2 separate regions of the Homo sapiens genome follow, and region 1 is linked to region 2. Evidence: fine-mapped expression QTL. A gene starts in region 2. The other region holds a variant in brackets. All regions are shown on one strand. Distances are from middle to middle.

The links. PIP is the estimated chance that this variant, and not a neighbour inherited with it, causes the effect.
Region 1: its variant is fine-mapped to the expression of DHRS7 in whole blood (INTERVAL, PIP above 0.99).

Annotation. Positions count from the first base shown.
Region 1 is chr14:60,069,408-60,080,433 of GRCh38, reverse strand. The region is part of intron 1 of PCNX4-DT (PCNX4 divergent transcript); the gene reads left to right. Among named protein-coding and RNA genes, the nearest start is that of PCNX4-DT, 17 kb to the left of the region's middle. The variant G/T (reference allele first, on the strand shown) is at 4,643.
Region 2 is chr14:60,161,526-60,172,342 of GRCh38, reverse strand. It overlaps DHRS7 (dehydrogenase/reductase 7), which reads left to right and starts at 6,945. Exons shown (of 7, transcript NM_016029.4): 1 at 6,945-7,166. The coding sequence starts at 7,034. RefSeq lists a silencer at 6,712-6,981 and enhancers at 7,182-7,231, 7,422-7,481.

The DNA.
Region 1 (11,026 bases), 92 kb after region 2:
TAGTGGTAAAGGAAATTCTTAAACATGAATTTTCTGTGGTATAGTTTACAGCTATGTGTTCTACTCATGCTTTTGATGTTTTTTATATTCTCAAGGAATTGTTAACTTCACAGCTCTCTTCTCAAGCCATTGTTCCTTTGATTCTAAGAGAGGTTGCATTGTCTTAGCTTTTAAAAATAATCTACATTATGAATTGTTTTTCAAATATCTTTCCTATCCCACTCTTATCTTGAACTGTATTTCTTCAAATATTTGTAATTTTGGGACTCAAATGATACTGACCTTATTAACTCCTAGATCTTATGATTGCACAAAGTCAGAATACTTGGTTGCAAGTGACAGAAATTCAACTCCTCCAAAAAGGATTTATTGGTTCATGTAATTGGGAAGTGCAAGAGTGCATCTTATGGCAAGAGTGCATCTGGAGACTCAAATACTGCTGTGAAGACTCTCTCTGCAGCTCTTTGTTTGCATTGCTTTATTCTTTTAGAGTCTCCCCTAGTGGCAGACAAATGGCTGCCAGACAAACTCAAATCTCCCAGTTAAGCAATTGTAATGTAGGAAATAAACCAAATAACTCTCTACCAATGTCCATATCTCAATTTCAGGTTCTGTGTGCATAATCCTATGATTAGCAGCCCCAGCACTAATGCATAGAGGAGATATTTCCCAAAGGATTCTGAAGAAAGGGGGGTGGGAAAATTAGGCAGAAAAGAAGAACAATTCCCATAGTCTATTATACCAATGTTTCCCCACCTTATAGTGAAGCAACTTTTTAAAAAATTCTAGGTACATTACAAACCAATGTTTCTGTCCATTTAAAATCATTTGATGTACTGCATGTTTGTCTCTTTTTGGCTGTGCAGCATTTGAATCCCTGTCCTTTCTGGAATTTTCCACTGTGAGAGCTTTAGTGGGAAGGCAGGCCACATCCCCCATCACAGATGTTAAAAAATACATGTGCTTTTATTTAATTATTTTTTTGCTGTGAAGGTATTATTATTGTTATATTTTTTAATATACTGTAGTTCTGGTGCAGGTTTGTAACATAGGTATACATGTGCCATGGTGGTTTGCTGCATCCATCAACCCATCATCTACATTAGATATTTCTCCTAATGCTATCCCTCCACTTGCCCCCCACCCCACAACAGGCCCCAGTGTGTGATGTTTCCCTCCCTGTGTCCATGTGTTCTTATTTTTCAGCTCCTGCTTACGAGTGAGAAAATATGGTGTTTGGTTTTCTGTTCCTGTTTAAGTTTGCTGAGAATGATGGTTTCCAGTTTCATCTGTGTCTCTGCAAAGGACATGAACTCATCCTTTTTAAAGGCTGCATAGTATTCCATGGTGTATTTGTGCCACATTTTCTTTATCAAGTCTGTCAGTGATGGACATTTGGGTTGGTTCCAAGTCTTTGCTATTGTGAACAGTGCCGCAATATGTGCATATGTCTTTATAATAGAATTATTTATAATCCTTTGGGAATATACCCAGTAATGGGATTGCTGGGTCAAATGGTATTTCTGGTTCTAGATCCTTGAAGAATTGCCACACTGTCTTCCACAATGGTTGAACTAATTTACACTCCCACCAACAGTGTAAAAGCATTCTTATTTTTCCACATCCTCTCCAGCATCTGTTATTTCCTGACTTTTTAATGATCACCATTCTAACTGGCATGAGATGGTATCTCATTGTGGCTTTGATTTGCATTTCTCTAATGATCAGTGATGATGAACTTTTTTTCATATGTTTGTTGACTGCATAAATGTCTTCTTTTGAGAAGTGTCTGTTCATATCCTTCACCCACTTTCTGATGGGGTTGTTTTTTTTTTTGTAAATTTGTGTAAGTTCCTTGTAGATTCTGGATATTAGCCCTTTGTCCAATGGATAGATTACAAAAATTTTCTCCCATTCTGTAGGTTGCCTGTTCACGCTGATGATAGTTTCTCTTGCTGTGCAGAAACTCTTTAGTTTAATTAGATCCCAGTAGTCAATTTTGGCTTTTGCTGCCATTGCTTTTGGTTTTTTAGTCATGAAGTCTTTGCCCATGCCTATGCCCTGAATGGTATTGCCTAGGGTTTCTTCTAGGATTTTTATGGTTTTAGGTCCTACGTTTAAGTCTTTAATCCGTCTTGAGTTAATTTTTGTATAAGGTTTAAGGAAGGGGTCTACTTTTAGTTTCCTGCATATGGCTAGCCAGTTTTCCCAACACTATTTATTAAATAGGGAGTCCTTTTCCCCATTGCTTGTTTTTGTCCAGTTTGTCAAAGATCAGATGGTTGTAGATGTGTGAAGTTATTTCTGAGGACTCTGTTCTGTTCCATTGGTCTATATCTCCGTTTTGGTACCAGTACCATGCTGTTTTGGTTACTGTAGCCTTGTAGTATAGTTTGAAGTCAGATAGCGTGATGCCTCCAGCTTTCTTCTTTTTGCGTAGGATTGTCTTGGCTATACAGGCTCTTTTTTGGTTCCATATTAAGTTTAAAGTAGATTTTATAATTCTGTGAAGAAAGTCAATGGTAGCTTGATAGGGATAGCATTGAATCTACAAATTATTTTGGGCAGTATGGCCATTTTCACGGTATTGATTCTTCCTATCCATGAACATGGAATGTTTTTCCATTTGTTTGTGTCCTCTCTTATTTCCTTGAGCAGTGGTTTGTAGTTCTCTTTGAAGAGGTTCTTCATATCCCTTGTAAGTTGTATTCCTAGGTATTTTATTCTCTTTGTAGCAATTGTGAATGGGAATTCACTCATGATTTGGCTCCCTGTTTGTCTATTATTGGTGTATAGGAATGCTTGTGATTTTTGCACATTGATTTTGTATCCTGAGACTTTGCTGAAGTTGCTTATCAGCTTAAGGACATTTTGGGCTGTTGATTGGGTTTTCTAAATATACAATCATGTCATCTGCAACCAGAGACAATTTGACTTCCTCTCTTTCTATCTGAATACCCTTTATTTCTTTCTCTTGCCTGATTGTCCTGGCCAGAACTTCCAATACTATATTGAATAGGAGTGGTGAGAGATGGCATCCTTGTCTTGTGCTGGTTTTCAAAGGGAATGCTTCCAGCTCTTTCCCATTCAGTATGATATTGGCTGTGGGTTTGTTATAAATAGCTCTTATTATTTTGAGATACGTTCCATCAATACCTAGTTTATTGAGAGCTTTTAGCATGAAGGGGTGTTGAATTTTATCAAAGGATAAATGCACCAATAACAGACAAACAGCCAAATCATGAGTGAACTCCCATTCACAATTTCTTCAAAGAGAATAAAATACCTAGGAATCCAACTTACAAGGGATGTGAAGGACCTCTTCAAGGAGAACTACAAACCACTGCTCAGTGAAATACAAGAGGACACAAACAAATAGAAGAACATGCCATGCTCATGGATAGGAAGAATCAATATCGTGAAAATGGCCATACTGCCCAAGGTAATTTATAGATTCAATGCCATCCCCATCAAGCTACCAATTACTTTCTTCACAGAATTGGAAAAAACTACTTTAAAGTTCATATGGAACCAAAAAAGAGCTCGCATTGCCAAGACAGTCCTAAGCCAAAAGAACAAAGCTGGAGGCATCACACTACCTGACTTCAAACTATACTGCAAGGCTACAGTAACCAAAACAGCATGGTACTGGTACCAAAACAGAGATATAGACCAATGGAACAGAACAGAGCCCCTGGAAATAATATCACACATCTACAACCATCTGATCTTTGACAAACCTGACAAAAACAAGCAATGGGGAAAGGATTCCCTATTTAATAAATGGTGCTGGGAAAACTGACTAGCCATATGTAGAAAGCTGAAACTGGATCCCTTCCTTACACCTTATACAAAAATTAATTCAAGATGGATTAAAGACTTAAATGTTAGACCTAAAACCATAAAAACCCTAGAAGAAAACCTAGGCAATACCATTCAGGACATAGGCATGGGCAGGGACTTCATGTCTAAAACACCAAAAGCAATGGCAACAAAAGCCAAAATTGACAAATGGGATCTAATTAAACTGAAGAGCTTCTGCACAGCAAAAGAAACCACCATCAGAGTGAACAGGCAACCTACAGAATGGGAGAAAATTTGTACAAATCTGACAAAGGGCTAATATCCAGAATCTACAAATAACTTAAACTTACAAGAAAAAATCAAACAACTCCATCAAAAATTGGGTGAAGGATATGAACAGACACTTCTCAAAAGAAGACATTTATGCAGCCAACAGACACATGAAAAAATGCTCATCATCACTGGCCATCAGAGAAATGCAAATCAAAACCACAATGAGATGCCATCTCACACCAGTTAGAATGGTGATCATTAAAAAGTCAGGAAACAACAGGTGCCGGAGAGAATGTGGAGAAATAGGAACACTTTTACACTGTTGGTGGGACTGTAAACTAGTTCAACCATTGTGGAAGACAGTGTGGCGATTCCTCAAGGATCTAGAAGTAGAAATACCATTTGATCAAGCCATCCCATTACTAGGTATATACCCAAAGGATTATAAATCATGCTCCTATAAAGACACATGCACACGTGTGTTTATTGCAGCACAATTCACAATAGCAAAGACTTGGAACCAACCCAAATGTCCATCAATGATAGACTGGATTAAGAAAATGTG[G/T]CATATATATACCATGGAATACTATGCAGCCATAAAAAATGATGAGTTCATGTCCTTTGTAGGGACATGGATGAAGCTGGAAACCATCATTCTGAGCAAACTATTACAGGGACAGAAAACCAAACACCGCATGTTCTGACTCATAGGTGGGAAGAACAATGAGAACACTTGGACACAGGATGGGGAACATCACACACAGGGGCCTGTTGTGGGGTGGGAGAAGGGGGAGGATATAACATTAGGAGATATATCTAATGTAAATGACGAGTTAACGGGTGCAGCACACCAACATGGCAGATGTATACATATGTAACAAACATGCATGTTGTGCACATGTACCCTAGAAGTTAAAGTATAATAATAATAAATAAAAATAAAAAAATTTTAAAAAATCTCTCAGCATTTGCTTGTCTCTAAAGCATTTTATTTCTCCTTTGCTTATGAAGCTTAGTGTGGCTGAATCTGAAATTCTGGGTTGAAAATTCTTTTCTTTAAGGATGTTGAATATTGCCCCCCTAACCCCTTGTAGGGTTTCTGCAGACAGATCTGCTGTTAGTCTGATCGGCTTCCCTTTGTGGGCGACCTGACCTTTCTCTCTGGCTTCCCTTAACATTTTTTCTTTCATTTCAACCTTGGTGAATCTGAAGATTATGTGTCTTGGGGCTGCTTTTCTTTGTGGTGTTCTCTGTATTTCCTGAATTTGAATGTTGACCTGTCTTGCTAGGTTGGGGAAGTTCTCCTGGATAATATCCTGAAGGGTGTTTTCTAACTTGGTTCCATTCTCCCCATCACTTTCATGTACACCAGTCAAATGTAGGTTTAGTCTTTTCACATAGTCCCATATTTCTTGGAGGCTTTGTTCATTCCTTTTTATTCTTTTTCCTCTAATCTTGTCTTCATGCTTGATTTCATAAGTTGATCTTCAATCTCTGATATCTTTTCTCCCGCTTGAACAATTCAGCTATTGATACTTGTGTATGCTTCACAAAGTTCTTGTGCTGTGTTTTTCAGCTCCATCAGGTCATTTATGTTCTTCTCTAAACGGTTATTCTAGTTAGCAATTCCTCTAACCTTTTTTCAGGGTTTTTAGCTTCCCTGCATTGGGTTAGAATATGCTCCTTTAGCTCAGAGGAGTTTGTTATTACCCACCTTCTGAAGCCTACTTCTATCAATTCCTCAGACTCATTCTCTGTCCAGTTTTGTTCCCTTGCTGGCAAGGAGTTGTGATCCTTTAGAGGAAAAGTGTTCTGGTTTTGGGAATTTTCAGCCTTTTTGTGCTGGTTTTTCCTCATCTTTGTGAATTTATTTACCTTTGGTCTTTATCTACCTTTGGTCTTTGATGTTGGTTACCTTCAGAGGGAGTTTCTTTTTGTTGATGATGATGCTATTCCTGTTTGTTTGTTTTCCTTCTAACAGCCACACCGCTCTGCTGTAGGTCTGCTGGAGTTTGCTGGAGGTCCACTGCAGACCCTGTTTGCCTGGGTATCACCAGCGGAGGCTGCAGAACAGCAAAGATTGCTGCCTGTTCCTTCCTCTGGAGGCTTTATCCCAGAGGGGCACCCGCCAGATGCCAGCCAGAGCTCTCCTATATGGGGTGTCTGTCTACCCCTGCTGGGAAGTGTCTCCCAGTCAGGAAGCACAGGGGTCAGGGACCCACTTGAGGAGGCAGTCTGTCCCTTAGCAGAGCTTGAGCACTGTCCTGGGAGATCTGCTGCTCTCTTCAGAGCCAGCAGGCAGGAATGTTTAAGTCTGCTGAAGCTGCGCCCACCATTGCCCCTTCCCCCAGGTACTCTGTCCCAGGGAGATGGGAGTTTTATCTATAAGCCTCTGACTGGGGCTGCTGCCTTTCTTTCAGAGATGCCCTGCCCAGAGAGGAGGCAGTCTGGCTACAGTGGCTTTGCCGAGCTTTGGCAGTTTTGACTTTCTGACAGTTTTGTTTACACCGTGAGGGAAAAACCACCTACTCAGTCCTCAGTAATGTGTACACCACTCTCCCCACCAAGCTTGAGTGTCCCAGGTTGACTTCAGATTGCTGTGCTGGCAGCGAGAATTTCAAGCCAGTGGATCTTAACTTGCTGGGCTTCATCGGGGTGGAATCCACTGAGCTAGATCACTTGGCTCCCTGGCTTCAGCCCCGTTTTCAGGGAAGTGAACGGTTCTGTGTCGCTCTCATTCCAGGCACCACTGGGGTATGAAAAAATAACTCCTGCAGCTAGCTAGGTGTCTGCCCAAACGGCCTCCCAGTTTTGTGTTTGAAACCCAGGGCCCTGGTGGTGTAGGCACCCAAGGGAATCTGCTGGTCTGAAGGTTGCAAAGACTGTGAGAGAGGCCTGTATCTGGGCTGGAATGCAGTGTTCCTCAAGGCACGGTCCCTCAAGGCTTCCCTTGGCTAGGGGAGGGAGTTCCCTGACCCCTGCGCTTCCCTGGTGAGGCAGTGCCCCACCTGCTTCTGCTTGCCTTCCATGGGCTGCACACACTGTCTAACCAGTCCCAATGAGATGAGCCGGGTACCTCAGTTGGAAATGCAGTAATCACCCACCTTCTGTGTTGATCTTGCTGGGAGCTACAGACTGGAGCTGTTCCTATTTGGCCATCTTTCCAGCCACCCCCTGCTTTTCTTTAATAACTAAAGTTTGTGGCGGGCAACCTAAGTTTAGCTATCTTCTTCCTGGGCCTTTCAGTGTAGAACATGGGAAGCAAAGAAGCAGGAATATTTAGAATTCATTTTGATGGCAACAGAAACATCAAGGCCTTATTGCACTCATCTAGTGGCACCCATGCCTGTGGCAGCAGCATGGCACTGGCACCATAATTAAGGTGATCCTGTGACATGATACTGTCTGGGGTATTGACCACTATACTCCGCTTGTTCTCATTCTATGAGCCTGGTTTTTCAGCCTTTCTGTTCTGTGAACTATCCTATGAGCTATATCCAGAGTAATGTTCTTTTGCTTGCAACAAAAGCCACTGAGTGATACTCTCCGCTAATAATTTTTAGCCAAGATATTTTGAGGTACAATTATTTTCTCTAAGATGCTAATAATTGGTGAATTTAAGTATGATTTCTTTTTCATCTTAATGTATTTAACAGCTTCAAATTCTAGAGTTTATTCTTTCATGACCTCCTTTTTATACTGACATTAAACCACTTTCAGTGACTTTCTTTTATGACTCATTCAGAACCAATTGCTGCTTTCATTTTGCCATTATCCCATTTATGCTCTTCCATAAAATCTACTTTTGTTCTTTGCTTTTTCATTTCTCGTTAAGTTGTATCTTTCTGCTATAATTTTAGTACAAAAGTCCTTCACATCTCTTTTCTGGGAACATTCCTGTATCAGTTAGGATTAGGTTGTACTTCTTGTAACAGAGAAACCATAATAACAGTGGTTTAACCGATATAAACTTACTTCTTGCCGTATAAGTTAATTATTCGAGGGTCAGAATGGCAGTTCTATGGGCTAGTGGGACAGTCCCATTTATTATGCTGTCATCTTTAAGGTCTTTTTCCTCCTGGTCCAGCCAGACTTCCTCCATCATAATCTTTTCCCAAGCTACAGTATGAATGGAAGGGAAATTTTTCTTCCTTTCCTTTTTAAGAAGACTTCCAGTAAGTTTCCATACCACACTACCACATATAAGTCATTTGCCAAAACAAAGGGCCACATTTGACTGCAAGAGAAGCACTATTCCTAGCTAATAATCAGGGTTCTTTTACTAAGGGAGAATGACAGAACAGGCCCGGGAGGCAATTGGCTGTCTCCTCCACAATTTCTACTTCTTTTGACTATCTCTAAGTAATTTACCATCTTTCTAGATAAAACAGTTTATTTTGTGTTTTGGGACTAATTTGTAAATTTTTAGTTCAACTAATAAAAATTTAGTTCAACTAGTAAAAATTTGGAACAAAAATGATCCTAATATAATACATATTTTATTTAATAATTATACAGTTTTTATCGTATTGTTACACTCATTCTAATTGCCTGAATAAAGTGGTTTTCTTACAAAAATTCCCACTTAGTTATTTTCAAGATATGATGGCTTCAAAATGAGTTTAAATTCTTACTTATAAAAGGAATGTATATTTTTAAAGTAAACTAATTTATATTACTTTTAGATTGTGATATCAAAATAAAATATGGAAGATTCTGAAGACTTTCCAGAATTTGTGAAGAATGTGTGAAATAAAATGGTGGTTGGGCTCACTCCCTTATACTTTTGCTTCTACACCAGTAAAATAACCCTTGAATCAGGATCATTGTCAATAATTTATATTTCAAAATTTAAATTCTTGTTTTTAAAGAAATAATTTTGAACATGCAGAAAAGTTTTAAATATGGTGATTTCCTCACCCAGCTTTTCCTAATGTTAACATTTTATATAGCAATGATTGAAACTTAGCAATTAACAGTTATACTGTTAACTAATCTATGGACTTTATTTGAATTTCAACAGTTTTCCCACTAATGCCCTTTTTTTGGTTCAAGATCCAATCCAAGATCTTGTATATTATACTTAGTTATCATGTTTCTTAGATTCCTCCAATATGACTTCCTCAGTCCTTATCATGCAATGCCCTTGATCTTTTTAGACTCCTTTTGGCCAGACTTATTGGCCGATTATATTGTGGAATGTCCCTTAGTTTGGGTTTGTCTGATATTTTCTCATGATCAGATCATTCTCATTCTCATGATCATGTGGTATTTTTGGCAGGAATACTACAGAATGATTTTGTGCCCTTATCAGTGCATCATATCAGGATATTGATATATCTTATTTTTTGGTGATATTAAATTTGATCTCTTGGTTAAGGTGTTTATCAGTTTTTTCCACTGCACAGTTAATATTTTTTTCTATTTGTAATTAAAAAGTATCTTGTAGGGAAATTCTTAGAGACCATGCAAATACCCTGTTTATACTGTCATCTACTAATTTTAGTATCCATAGATGATTCTTAACCACAGCAATTATTACTTTGGTGTTTTCCATAGTCATCAATATTCTTTACATGTTTATTGAATACAGAAGAAAATTATGTTCATTAAAAACATCTATAAATGTGAACTTGAGGAAATTCTTTTGATTAGTAGGTTAAAGATACAGCCAAGAAGTTCTGTGAAAGTTACAGGAAAAAAAATGTGTTTAAATGTTAAATTATTTGTGGCATTTTTAACGTCAATTGAGAAGAGCACAGTTATATGATCCAGCTATCTCTATTTATTTGTGGGGTATGATTCTTAATGGGACCAAAGACCTCCGGTGTTCTAATCCCACTTTTCTCTTTGTTCAGAATAAATCTTCTTGGCCCATAGCCAGGTATAGGGAGTGCTATCTAAGCAACGATAAACTAGAACTCTCTCAATCCCAGTTGTTTTGTTTTGCTTTGCTTTTTTATGAAACTAAAAATATAGCTCCCAGAATTCAAGTCTGTTTCCATGTTGCACGTCACAACTCTAACCTGACATTAACATCTTGCTGTAAACGAGGTGTCAGGTGTCTAGGCTTAAACCAGAAGACTAATGGATTATAAAAGAAAACAATTAGATATTTCAGTTTTACATTGCTAGTTTTTCCATTTTAATTTAAAATATAATTCCCCAGTATTATACATTTGTGTCACATAGGCGTTGTATGTACTAGGGTATCAGCAGGAAACAAGTGGCAGAGTCAAATGGGGCCATTGAGGAGTTTAGTGAAGGGACCACTTCAGAAGTGTGGATAGAATTAAGGAAACAGACCAGGATTAGTGAAGCATTTTATTTTTTATTTTTTGAGAGAGAGTCTCATTCTGTCACCTGGCTAATTTTTGTATTTTTAGTAGAGATGGGGTTTCATGTTTGCCAGGCCGTTCTCAAACGCCTGGTCTCAAGTGATCTGCCTTCCTTGGCCTCCTAAAGTGCTGGGATTACAGGTGTGAGCCACCGTGCCCTGGCAGGTGAAGCATCTGAACTTGCAATGCCTGTAGGCCTGAAGGTGTAAGGGAAAGAGAGTTCACCAGAACCCAGATACTTTAGGAAAGCCCAATAGAAGCTGTAGTTCTTGTAGAATGCAGCTGCTACTAAAGCCCAAATCTCACTCTTTTACTCTTTGATCTACTTCTAGTGTCTTGATTGGCTACAGCCAACTGCCAGCTAGAGGGACAAATGACTCTAAGTGATGTTGTCCTTAAAGGTGAGTCTTTAGAGTCACAGAGCAGGAGGAGAAAGGTAGAGAATAGATCTGGAAGGGCAAGTGGAGGCTATCTAGCAAATTGTATTTCAGAAAAAGTGCACTTGATTATATTTCTGGCTCTAGTTTTTCTTATGTCTGGCCTCCTTCATTGAGGTTATGTGACATGTTCCTGAAGACTTTTTCATTCTTTATTTTATCTTTTTTTTGGTG
Region 2 (10,817 bases):
CAGGCTGGAGTGCAGTGGCACAATCATGGCTCACCACAGCCTCCTGGGCTCATGTGATCCTCCTGCCTCAGCCTCCAGAGTAGCTGGGACTACAGGTGTGTGCTACCATGCCTGGCTAATTTTTTTGATTTTTTTATAAAAATGAGATCTTGCTACGTTGTCCAGGCTGGTCTCAAACTTATGAGCTCAAGCAATCCTCCCACCTCTGCTTCCCAAAGTGCTGGGATTAGAGGTGTGAGCCACCACGCCCAACTTAAGTATTATTTTGACACTAGTGAAAACTTTAAAAAGTTCCCACACTCCTAGGAAAAATTTACAGCCAGGATACAAGATCAACCACCAGAAATGATTTTAAATCTACTTAATCCGTCAACAACTCACCTCTGCAAGCATGATTCTGGAAGCCAACCCAGCAGCGAAAACCCCTTGCTTGTGAAAGCAAACCACCTGGGAATGGACTGCTTCAATGAACACACCACTGAGTGCCAATCTACTAAAGTCTCACTCAAGTAACTACAGTTCTTCAGCTGACATCAACCTACTCTGCCAGTCACCAAACTCCATGCTTCTGCAGAGCTGTATTAAGATCAGTTCCCTGATCTGCTTAGAGAGACTGGGCCTGGTCAGCATAGCTCTCCCTTATATACCTAAGCAATAAATTCAGCTTTATTTTTTGTTTATTGTGATGGTCTGAATTGTGTTCTCCTGAAATTAATATGTTGAAGTTTTAACTCCTAGTACCTCAGAATGAGACTGTATTTGGGGATGAGCTTGTTAAAGAGGTGGTTAAGGTAAAACGAGGTCATGTCAGTGGGCCCTGATCCAATATGATTGATGATGTCCTTATAAGAAGAGGAGATTAGGACACAGATGCACACAGAGAAAAGACTATGTGAAGACAGGAAGAAGACGACCATCTGCTATAGCAGGACGAGCCACAGACAAAACTCCTTAGATACCGGGTTAAAGAAGGAAGGAGCTTTATTCAGCTGGGAGCTTCTGCAGACTTGCATCTCAAAAGCCGAGCTCCCTGGGAGAGAAATTCCTGCCCCCTTTAAGGGCTTACAACTCTAAGGTGGTCTACGTGAAAGGGTTGTGATCGATTGAGCAAGCATGGGGTATGGGACTTGGGCTGCATGCACCGGTAATCAAGACAGAGCAGAACAGAACAGAACAGAAAATTTCACAATGCTTCTTCACACAATGCCTGGAATCTATGGATAATACAAGCAGTTAGGTCAGGGGTTGATTTTTAACTACCAGGCTGGAGGTGCTGCAGTGGGCTGTCTGACTATTGATCTTATTTTTGCCTTTCTGTAACTTTTGAATTCTCTTTCTTTTTCTGAGGTATGAGACAAGGAGAGGGGGTGGTCTTCAAGTCAAGGAGGGGGACCTCAGAGGAAACCAGCCCTGTCAGCACCTTGACCTTGAACTTCTAGACTCCAGCACTGTGAGAAAATAAATTTCTGTTGTTTAAGCCATCCAGTCTGTGATATTTTGTTATGGCGGCCCTAGAAAATTAATATATTAATGTTTATTTTGGATATTGAGGTCTCTAGACACTAGAAATCAACATCAAAATTCTTACCAAATGAAGGTAATGACCCTGGACTCTGCCTGAGCACTTCTGTCTCCAAGTAACAGGCCTCAGTGCTGTGCTTGGGCTCCTGGCCCACAGGTTAGTGGTTTTCACCTGGACCTCAGGTTGGTTGCAGAGGCAGGCCACATCCTTAGGGTAGGGGATTTACCTATGGGGGCACAAATACATTCCTTAACATTTCTCGTAAGCTAATTTTAGTGGGTCTCTGCCATTTGCGATTGAGAGTACCGACTGATTGAGACATTGGTACCCAGAAGTAGAGTGCTAGAAATGAAATATCCTAAAATGTGAACTACTGTGTCAAGGTGGAGTAGGAGGCAGTGAGGCTCTCTCCATCTCCCTCCATCCCTGGGTGGGAAGTGGGCAGTCTTTATGATATGGTAATGAAGCAGCTCATTAAGATGTTATTGTAGTTTCTTTGGGATTCAGACCTGTACATACTAAGGTAGAAGCTTCAGGGAATCCAGCAGAACAAAATTAGGCTGCTCTGGTGTGAGAGGCAGTATTATATGGTGGTTCAAGAGCAAAGACTGAAATTAGACTACCTAGGTTCAAAGACCCTGTCTCCTAGCTGTGTGACCTAGGGCAAGTTACTTAATCACAATTAAGCTTCCTCATCAGGGAAATGGGAATTAAAATAGTACCTAATTAACTGGATTATTGTGAAGATTAAGGGATTTAATATATATAAAGCACTTAGAATAGGCCTGGCAATTAGAAAGCATATGGACAGGTTAACTCTTGTTGTCTTGGTTACTTCTTGTGGCTCCTGTCAAGATCCTACTAGAAAGAGATAAGCCTTGGTCTTAGATAGCTGGGAACAGCATACGGCTTTGTTAAAAGAGATCACGCTCCTCACTGCTCTCATGCCCCATCTCAGCAGACAGCAATCCAAGACTGCTTAGGGTTCGGAATTACAAAACCAAATTCCCTGCTAAGGCTAAAGTTGATCTGAACAAAAGTAAGGGCAAGGCAAAGAGAATAGACATTAGACAGGGACCTGAAAGGATCCAGAAATGGGACTTTACATCCCACAGAGGAAACAGGTAAGGTGTTTCCATACAGTGACAGAGAATAGATCAGTGGCTGCCTAGGGAAGGGGTGGAGGATGGGTGGATTTCAAAGGGTCACCCCTTTTGGGGGTGATTGAAATGTTTACCTTGATTGTGGTGATGGTTTCACAGGTGTATATATTTGACAAACTCATCAAGTTGTATACCTTAAATATGTGCAGTTTCTTGTACTCGAATTATACTTTAGTAAAGGTATAAACAAGAGAGAGCAAGAGGTAGAAGCTGCAATAGCTTCTGTGACCTATCCTTGGGAGTCACACACTCATCATTTCTGCAGCATTCTGCTGGTTACAGTGATCAACCCTGATACAACCTGGGAGGGAAATACATGGTGGTTTGCACACAGGAGGTGAGCATTGTTGGATCCATCTGGGGGATTTCTGGCCATCCCTCTATGTGGAGAGAACAGTATGTACAAGGCCTTGAGGTGGGCTGGTATTCCAGAAAGCCTTAACTGATTAACTCTACTCACCTCTGCTGAAAAGTTGACTGTTACTTGGTGCAATGGTTTTTTTTTTTTTTTTTTTTTTTTTTTTGGTTTCTTTTGTTTGTTTGTTTTGTTTTTTTAAGACAGGGTCTTGCTCTGTTGCCCAGGCTGGAGTGCAGTGACACCATCAGTCTCGGCTCACTGCAACTTCTGCCTTCCAGGCAGTCTCAAGCAATCCTCCCACTTCAGCCTCGGTGCAATGTATGTTAACATATCATCTGTCACATCTTCCAAAATTTGAGTCCCAGGTTCTCCAAAACTTCAATGGGTTAGTTAGACTAACCACTTTCAATGCCTAAGTGTTCTAATATGTCAAGTTCTCCTCTGACCTTATGCTTTGGTTTATGAAGAGTGAAATTATGAGGAGTGTCAGCATGTTTGCAAGCCAATGGGATGGAGTATGATTTAAGAAGCAAGAAAGAATTTTGTTTTTCTTAAATCTGAGACCATAAATTTCTGTTCACTCTGCTTATCTCCAAGGCTGGTCCTGGCTGGAGAGGGGAGAAAAAAGAGAAGGAGAGGAAAAAGCATTGATCAGTTTTAGAATTTTAAGAAAATATTTGCATATTTTAAGAAATTTAACCTAATTTTTTTAACTTTTTACTTTAAAATGATTATAGATTCACAGGAAGTTGCAAAGATGGAACAGACGTGTACTCTGTACCCCGTTCTCCCCACTAGTAAATTTTACATAATTTTAGAACAATAACAGAACCAGGGAATTGGTATTGGCAAAATCCACAGACCTCGTTCAAATTTCACCAGCTTTGCATGTACTCATGTGTGCATGAGTGTTTGAAGTTCTAGATTAGAATAACAACCACCACTACTAAATCATGGACAAGATATATAAAGGGAAGTTTGAAACAGAGCATTTAAGGGAGAGAGAATGAGAGCTATAAACTGCTTATGTTTAAGAGACCCAAGATACTGTGGAAATTGGCTAATCTAAACAAAATATCAATGCACTGATATGGGGAACTGCATGTGGTGAACAGTGCAGTGAGATATTCCTATTGAGGGATCCCATGAGATTACTAAAGGTAAGAAAGTAAGTTATATTTTCTTATAAATAAGACTCTAGGTAAGACCTTGTCTGCCTGAAGAATATCAGAAAACTAGACCATGACCTGAACGCTTGTAGCTGGGGTACAGCCAGGCAGGTGTAAGCCAGAGCTTGTGGAGGGAGGCTGCTAATAGATTGCAGAGCTCCTCTCCACCGTGGCCAGGTTGCAGGATTTCTGAGTAAGGGTGCTGTGAGCTTTTGGGGCAGGGCAATTCTTTGTTGGGTATGTCTTTACATAGTGCCCAGATCGTTAGCACTCTGATGACACCCTGGCTAGCTGGCACTATGGCCACTGTTCATCCAACACATTTCCAAAAGCATCTAAGGGATGTGAAAACATCCTCAATCAAAAACCACAAACCCCTTATTGTTCTTGAGGAAGAATATTCCCTCCCTAGATTCCTCAGTCCCTGTTTCCACTCACAGTTTCCACTCACTCTTTTTTTCCCCCGCCTAGGGACTGCCGATCTTGGAGGATCTGGATTTTTAAAGTTATTTTTGTATAATGCTTTTGTTATGGAAGATGGCAATTGCTTACGCACAACTGCCTTCATCTTAGCTGACCTGAATGGGCCTTAGCTGCCATGAATGGGCCTTAGCTGCCATGAATGGGCCTGACCCCAGACCATCAAAAGTGACCATTACTAAAAGGAGGGAAGGCAGGGTACCATTCTATTACATCTGGAATTAAAAATGAAGGTTACCAGTTATAGAAAAGACTTTCGGACTTTATTCAAAGCATTTTAATAATACTTAGAGAAGATTGATTTATTAAATGCTAGCAACTCTCATTTTAACATTAACTTCCGAACTTCAAGGAGGTTTTAAAAAATTGAATTTTAATTTTTAATTTTTGTGGGTACACAGTAGGTGTATATATTTATGGAGTACATGAGATACTTTGATACAGGCATACAATGTGTAATAATCACATCATGGTAAATGGGGTATCCACCCCCTCAAGCATTTATCCTTTATGTTACAAACAATCCAATTATACTCTTCTGGTTGTTTTAAAACATACAACTAAATTATTATTGACTATAGGCACCCCATTGCACTATCAAATACTAGGTCTTATTCATTCTTTCTATTTTTTGTATCCGTTAACCATCTCCACGTCCCCCCCAACCCTCCCACTACTCTTCTCAGCCTCTGGTAACTATCCTTCTACTCTCTATCAAGGAGGTTTAAATTTCAAGGAAAGGAGAATTCAATCAACGTGGGCTTATTGCTTCTCATGTCAACACTAAGCTATGTATTCCAGACTCTTCAAAAGAAGCATCAGATTTGCTACTTTATTTCAAGGATTCTAAAGTTCCATTGGAACAATACTATATTAACCCTGAAAATAATTAAAAAACAATTTCAGATATAGTTCAGAAGTAATTGTGAAAAGAGGTGAGATTAGGGAAAGATGACTCTGAGTCCAGATAACCCCAAAAAGCTTTTTAGAGAAGGATGAGGGTGGGGAGGCAGGTAGGGGGTTTATAATAGGATTTAAAAAGAGAAGGAAGAGCTATTTAAGGAAATTTGATTACTGCAAGTAACATTCTTCAAAACATTTAAAGAAAAACAAAAGTTTGGCAGGCAAGACTAGAAAAAGAAAACAACACTGGGGAGGGAAGTCACTGCTTCTTTTATTTCCATGACTGTTTTAAAGTCATATTTAGTTTCAGCCAAGGAAGAGCCTTTGACATCAGAGCACACAAAGTACTCTAGGAAATGAAGAGGATGAAAGTTCTACTGCATCAACGCCCAGAACTTTCTCCATTTGGCCACAGGTCGTTCTCATACATGGCCTAGTTTCTATGCACTCTAACTGGGTCCCTCTGAGGCTTGTGAATGGAAAACCCTCTTGCTTTCAAATGCTTGAAAACAAGAAAGATGCTACTATTGATGCCTCAAATACATGTAGGTATTTAGTGGGAAGCAATTAAATGTTTTGAAGGTCATTTCAAACGGAAATTAATCAAAAACAGTATTTTACTCTTTTGTGTATTAGAGTAGGCAAGACCTTGGTGTTTTCATTACATTCTCTGTTTTTATTTGCTGTTTACATTAGGATGTGAATAATGGCTTGGGTAAGGGGAGGATTTGGTACCAACCTAGGCTTTGGTTGCCAAACAGACACCAGAGTAAATTTGTGTGTGGTCAGAATCAGGTTGTAAGGTGCCAACACAGCACATGGCTTCAGTCTTTTTTTCTCTAATTGTAAAAGGACCTTGTCCCCATGGAGGGACCATTGCCTTGGCTTGTGGGGTCTTGAGTGATAGCCACAGTCTTTCTTCAGCACTTTCTCGACCTCATGAAAAGATACTGAAGCTTGAAAAGGGGATGTTCTTTCTGAATAGGAATGGAGAAGAGGGGCCAAGCAAGAATGATTCTATCTGTCTCCTGGCCGTTGATAGTGTCCCTGTACAGAGAGGAAATAACGTAGTATAATATGTAGCTTATGTTTGAATCAGCTTCTTTAAAAATACTGGAATTTTATTTATTTATTTTTGGTAGACACAGGGTTTCCTCATGTTGCCCAGGCTGGTCTCGGACACTTGAATTCAAGCAATCTGCCGGCCCCGCCGGGTGTGCCGCATGAGGGCGCGGGCCGCCCAAGGACCGCGAGTGGGGCCGCGAGTGCTGAGCCCGGCGCGCCCGAGCCGCTCCTCCTCCCGGCCTGCTCCCTGGGCGGAGCCGGGGCAGTGCGGCTCTGGGCTGGCCGAAGGGGTGGCGCTGCGATCCCGCAGGGCAGCGACGCGACTCTGGTGCGGGCCGTCTTCTTCCCCCCGAGCTGGGCGTGCGCGGCCGCAATGAACTGGGAGCTGCTGCTGTGGCTGCTGGTGCTGTGCGCGCTGCTCCTGCTCTTGGTGCAGCTGCTGCGCTTCCTGAGGGCTGACGGCGACCTGACGCTACTATGGGCCGAGTGGCAGGGACGACGCCCAGGTGAGGACCGGCCAAAGCCTCTCCCGAGTGGGAGGCCGGGCTCGGAGCTGCCGAGGCGTGTCCGGGTCTCCGGGGGTTCTGCAGTGATCCCGGGTCCTTTGTGGGTTGCGTGGAGCTTCCCGAAGGCCCGGCTGCCCCTTACGCAGGGGCTGCGGGTTGGGGAGGAAGAGGCGAGGGCTAAAAAGCCCCTTTGTCTTCTGTACTGGTCGGAAGATGGCATGGACTTGCCATTCAGGCTAGGAAACCTCTCCAGGGAGTGCCAAACTGTTAAGAGAGCACTGGAGTCGGCGGTGCTCCTGAGGACTCTGACATCTTACGCAGGACTCAAGGGATTCTGGTGTTGTCTCAGAGGACGATACTTTGAGAAACAGTGAGCGTCCCCCTGCGTTTGTAAGGGAAACTCCTTTGTAAGTACCGGAAGCCCGGTCGTTCTACTACCTGAAGTAGTCTGTCCTCCACTTCCCACTCCTGCAGTTTTGAAATAAAATCTGAGATAATCCGAAGTCCTTCACCTACTTACTCATTCTAGTCAAACACTAGAAAGAACTAAAAATGGCAGTTTGCTGGAGCGAGATCATTATTGGCATACTGCCTATCTCACTTTATCTGTGTCTTGCTTAATATTTGACATCGTGTACATTTGCTGTATGTTGGCTCAGCGCTTTACACACATAACATTTAACTTTTACAACAACTCTTACAAGGTAGGCATTATTAATCTTATTTTCCAGATAGGGAAACTGATGTTCAGAGAAATTAAATGACCTACCGAAAGCTAGGCTTTGGATCCTTAAGGACTTGGGGAAATGGGGTTTCCCTGGACCAAGTTTCTGGTATAAAAATACTCAAAGCATGTTACAAAGTTTGCTTGGAAGAGATAGTAGCTCGAAAGATAGACTATGTTTGGGGGGGGCGTTATGGGTTGGGCGTTGAGGGGGGTGATATTGATCCCAAGGTGAGAATTGGTTCCTGTGGACAAAAAAAAAAAAAAAAAAAAATCTGGTAATACAGTGGTTTGTGCCCCTCCAAAGCTTAACCCCACCCGAGAAAATATTATTCCTTAGTATTTCATTTTTCTGGTTGGGTTTTCTTGGGTATAGCATGTGCAGCACTGACATTGAGTTCACGAAAAATACACAACATGGACGCCACAGCAGTGCTACAAAACTATGGCAAGTGATTGGGCTTTCTCCTTTTAAAGCAGGAATCCCAAATACTGCACAACTTCATTAACCAAGGGCTTTCTCTTGATCGATTGTTCCACCTCAGCGGGGGAATATGTGTGCCTATTGGCTGCCATTGGCTGCCTTGCAGACGTTGTTTGTGTTTGATCTTTAGTGCTTTTGTGTTCACTTGGACTTGGAGAATTAAACGAAAATAGATTATATTTTATTATTTAATCCTACAAAAAATATTCAACCCATCAAATTATGTCAAGTGCTAAAAAGCAAAATTATTGACAACATCTGAATGAATATCTCTAAGCTACTAAGTTAAAAGTTATTTTCTCATATTAAGGAAAAGTTAAAAGTTAAGATCATTGAAAATTTTAAGAAATTCATTTAATATTTTCAGTTGTGTTTTGTCGGAAAAGAACAGTTTGAAGGATTTTAAATTTAATTACATTGTTATCATTATGTAGTTATATAATTTGCAAATTTGCACATGTAGTTTGATAAATTGCTATTTATCTAAGTAAGTTACATAAAAGTTATTCAGCAAAAATCTGGCGTGGTGGCATGTACCTGCAATCCCAACTACTCTGGAGGCTAAGGTAGGAGGGTCATTTGAGCCCAGGAGTTCAAGACCAGCCTGGGCAGCATAGTGAGACACTGTCTCAAAAACCATAAAAATGTTTTTCAGCAAATACAGTTATAAAGTTAGAAGTTAATAACTTTTAAATTTTAATTTAACATTTAACTTAATTTTAAAATTTAGTCATATGCTTATTTAGTCATATGCTTATTAACTAAGGAGTAAGCTTTTTTTCTTTTTCTTTTTTTTTTTGAGACAGAGTCTCGCTCTGTTGGCCAGGCTGGAGTGCAGTGGTATGATCTTGGCTCACTGCAACCTCTATCTCCTGGGTTCAAGTGATTCTCCTGCTTCAGCCTCCCTAGTAGCTGGGATTACAGGTGCGTGCCACCACGCATGGGTAAGTTTTGTATTTTTAGTAGACCTGGGGTTTCGCCATGTTGGCCAGGCTAGTCTCAAACCCCTGACCTCAGGTGATCCACCCCGCTCTGCCTCCCAAAGTGTTGGGATTACAGGCATTAGCCACTGCGCCTGGCAGGAGTAAACTTTATAGAACTCCTTTTATGTATAAAGCACAGATATATGTACAGTACATAAATGATATACAGTATATCTGTGGAATTAACATTTCACAGGAGAGTTTTAGGGGAAAAAAAAGTCTAAAAAGACTCCTGGTGGAGGTAGGGAGTGAGAAAGAAGAAAAGATTAAAGGAAAATTGAAATAGACTCAGATTCCCAAAACAGCTCAGACTGGAGAGATGGGCAGACTCTATCAAGATGAAAAAAGAAAAAAAAATCCTTCTTGACTTCTCTGTAGGTTTATTATTTTTTGTCACTTAAAAAAATAGCACACTCACATAATACAAAAGTAAAAATACAAAAAGATATATAGTAAAAAGTAAAGAGCTTTCTCTGACCCTTGTGCCCTAGCTACCTAGTGTGCTTCTCTCGAGGCAGCCACCATTTCCTGCCTCCTCTGTATCCGTCTAGAGAAATTCTGTGCATTTCCAAGCATATATCTCACATGGTGATTTTTTTTTTTTTTTAATAGAGAGACAAGGTCTTGCTTTGTCACCCAGCCTGGAGTGCAGTGGCATGATCATAGCTCACTGCAGCCTCGAACTCCTGGGCTCAGGCAATCCTCCCACCTCAGCCTCCCCAGTAGCTAGGACTACAGGTGCAAACCACCACACCTGGATATTTTTAAACTTTTTGTAGAAACAGGCTCTCACTATGTTCCAGGCTGGTCTTGAACTCCTGGCCTCAAGTGATCCTTCCACCTTGGCCTCTCAAAGTGCTAGGATAACAGATGTGAACTGCCAAGCCCAGCCACATATGGTGAAATTTAAGGGTGACTAATTTTAGACATTAAAATGGTCCAGAAAAATCCATGGCACAAGTCTAGAGGAGGAAAAATTTCAACAGCAGCACATGTGAGCAAAACTCAGGTTTTTGTTAACAGTAACCTCAATAGGAGTCAACTGTGAAGTGGCTGCCAGAAAAGATCAGGCAACCTTGGGTTGCATTTGTAGACCTCAGTGTCTGAAGCAACAACTGCAAACAACAGATGTCTCCTGACTAGCTGCTTGTATGTGCCGGCCTCTGTGCTGGGGCACTGGGGACACTGCAGTGACTGAATCAGCCACAGTCCAGGCCCTCATAGACCCTACCTTCTGGGGGACAAGGGAAGTGATTTTTGACATCTCATCCTGCTCTGCACTGTCCAGACCCTACCGAATCCTGTGTCCTGCCCTAGCCAGCTCCCTTTAATAAAGAGGAACATTAACCAACTAGAATTGGTGCAGGTGGGTGTGAGCAGAAGAGTGAGGAAACCTGATACCATGTCATGTGAGGGAAGGTGGCAGAAATTGGATAGGTTTATTTAGCCTTAGAGAAGGT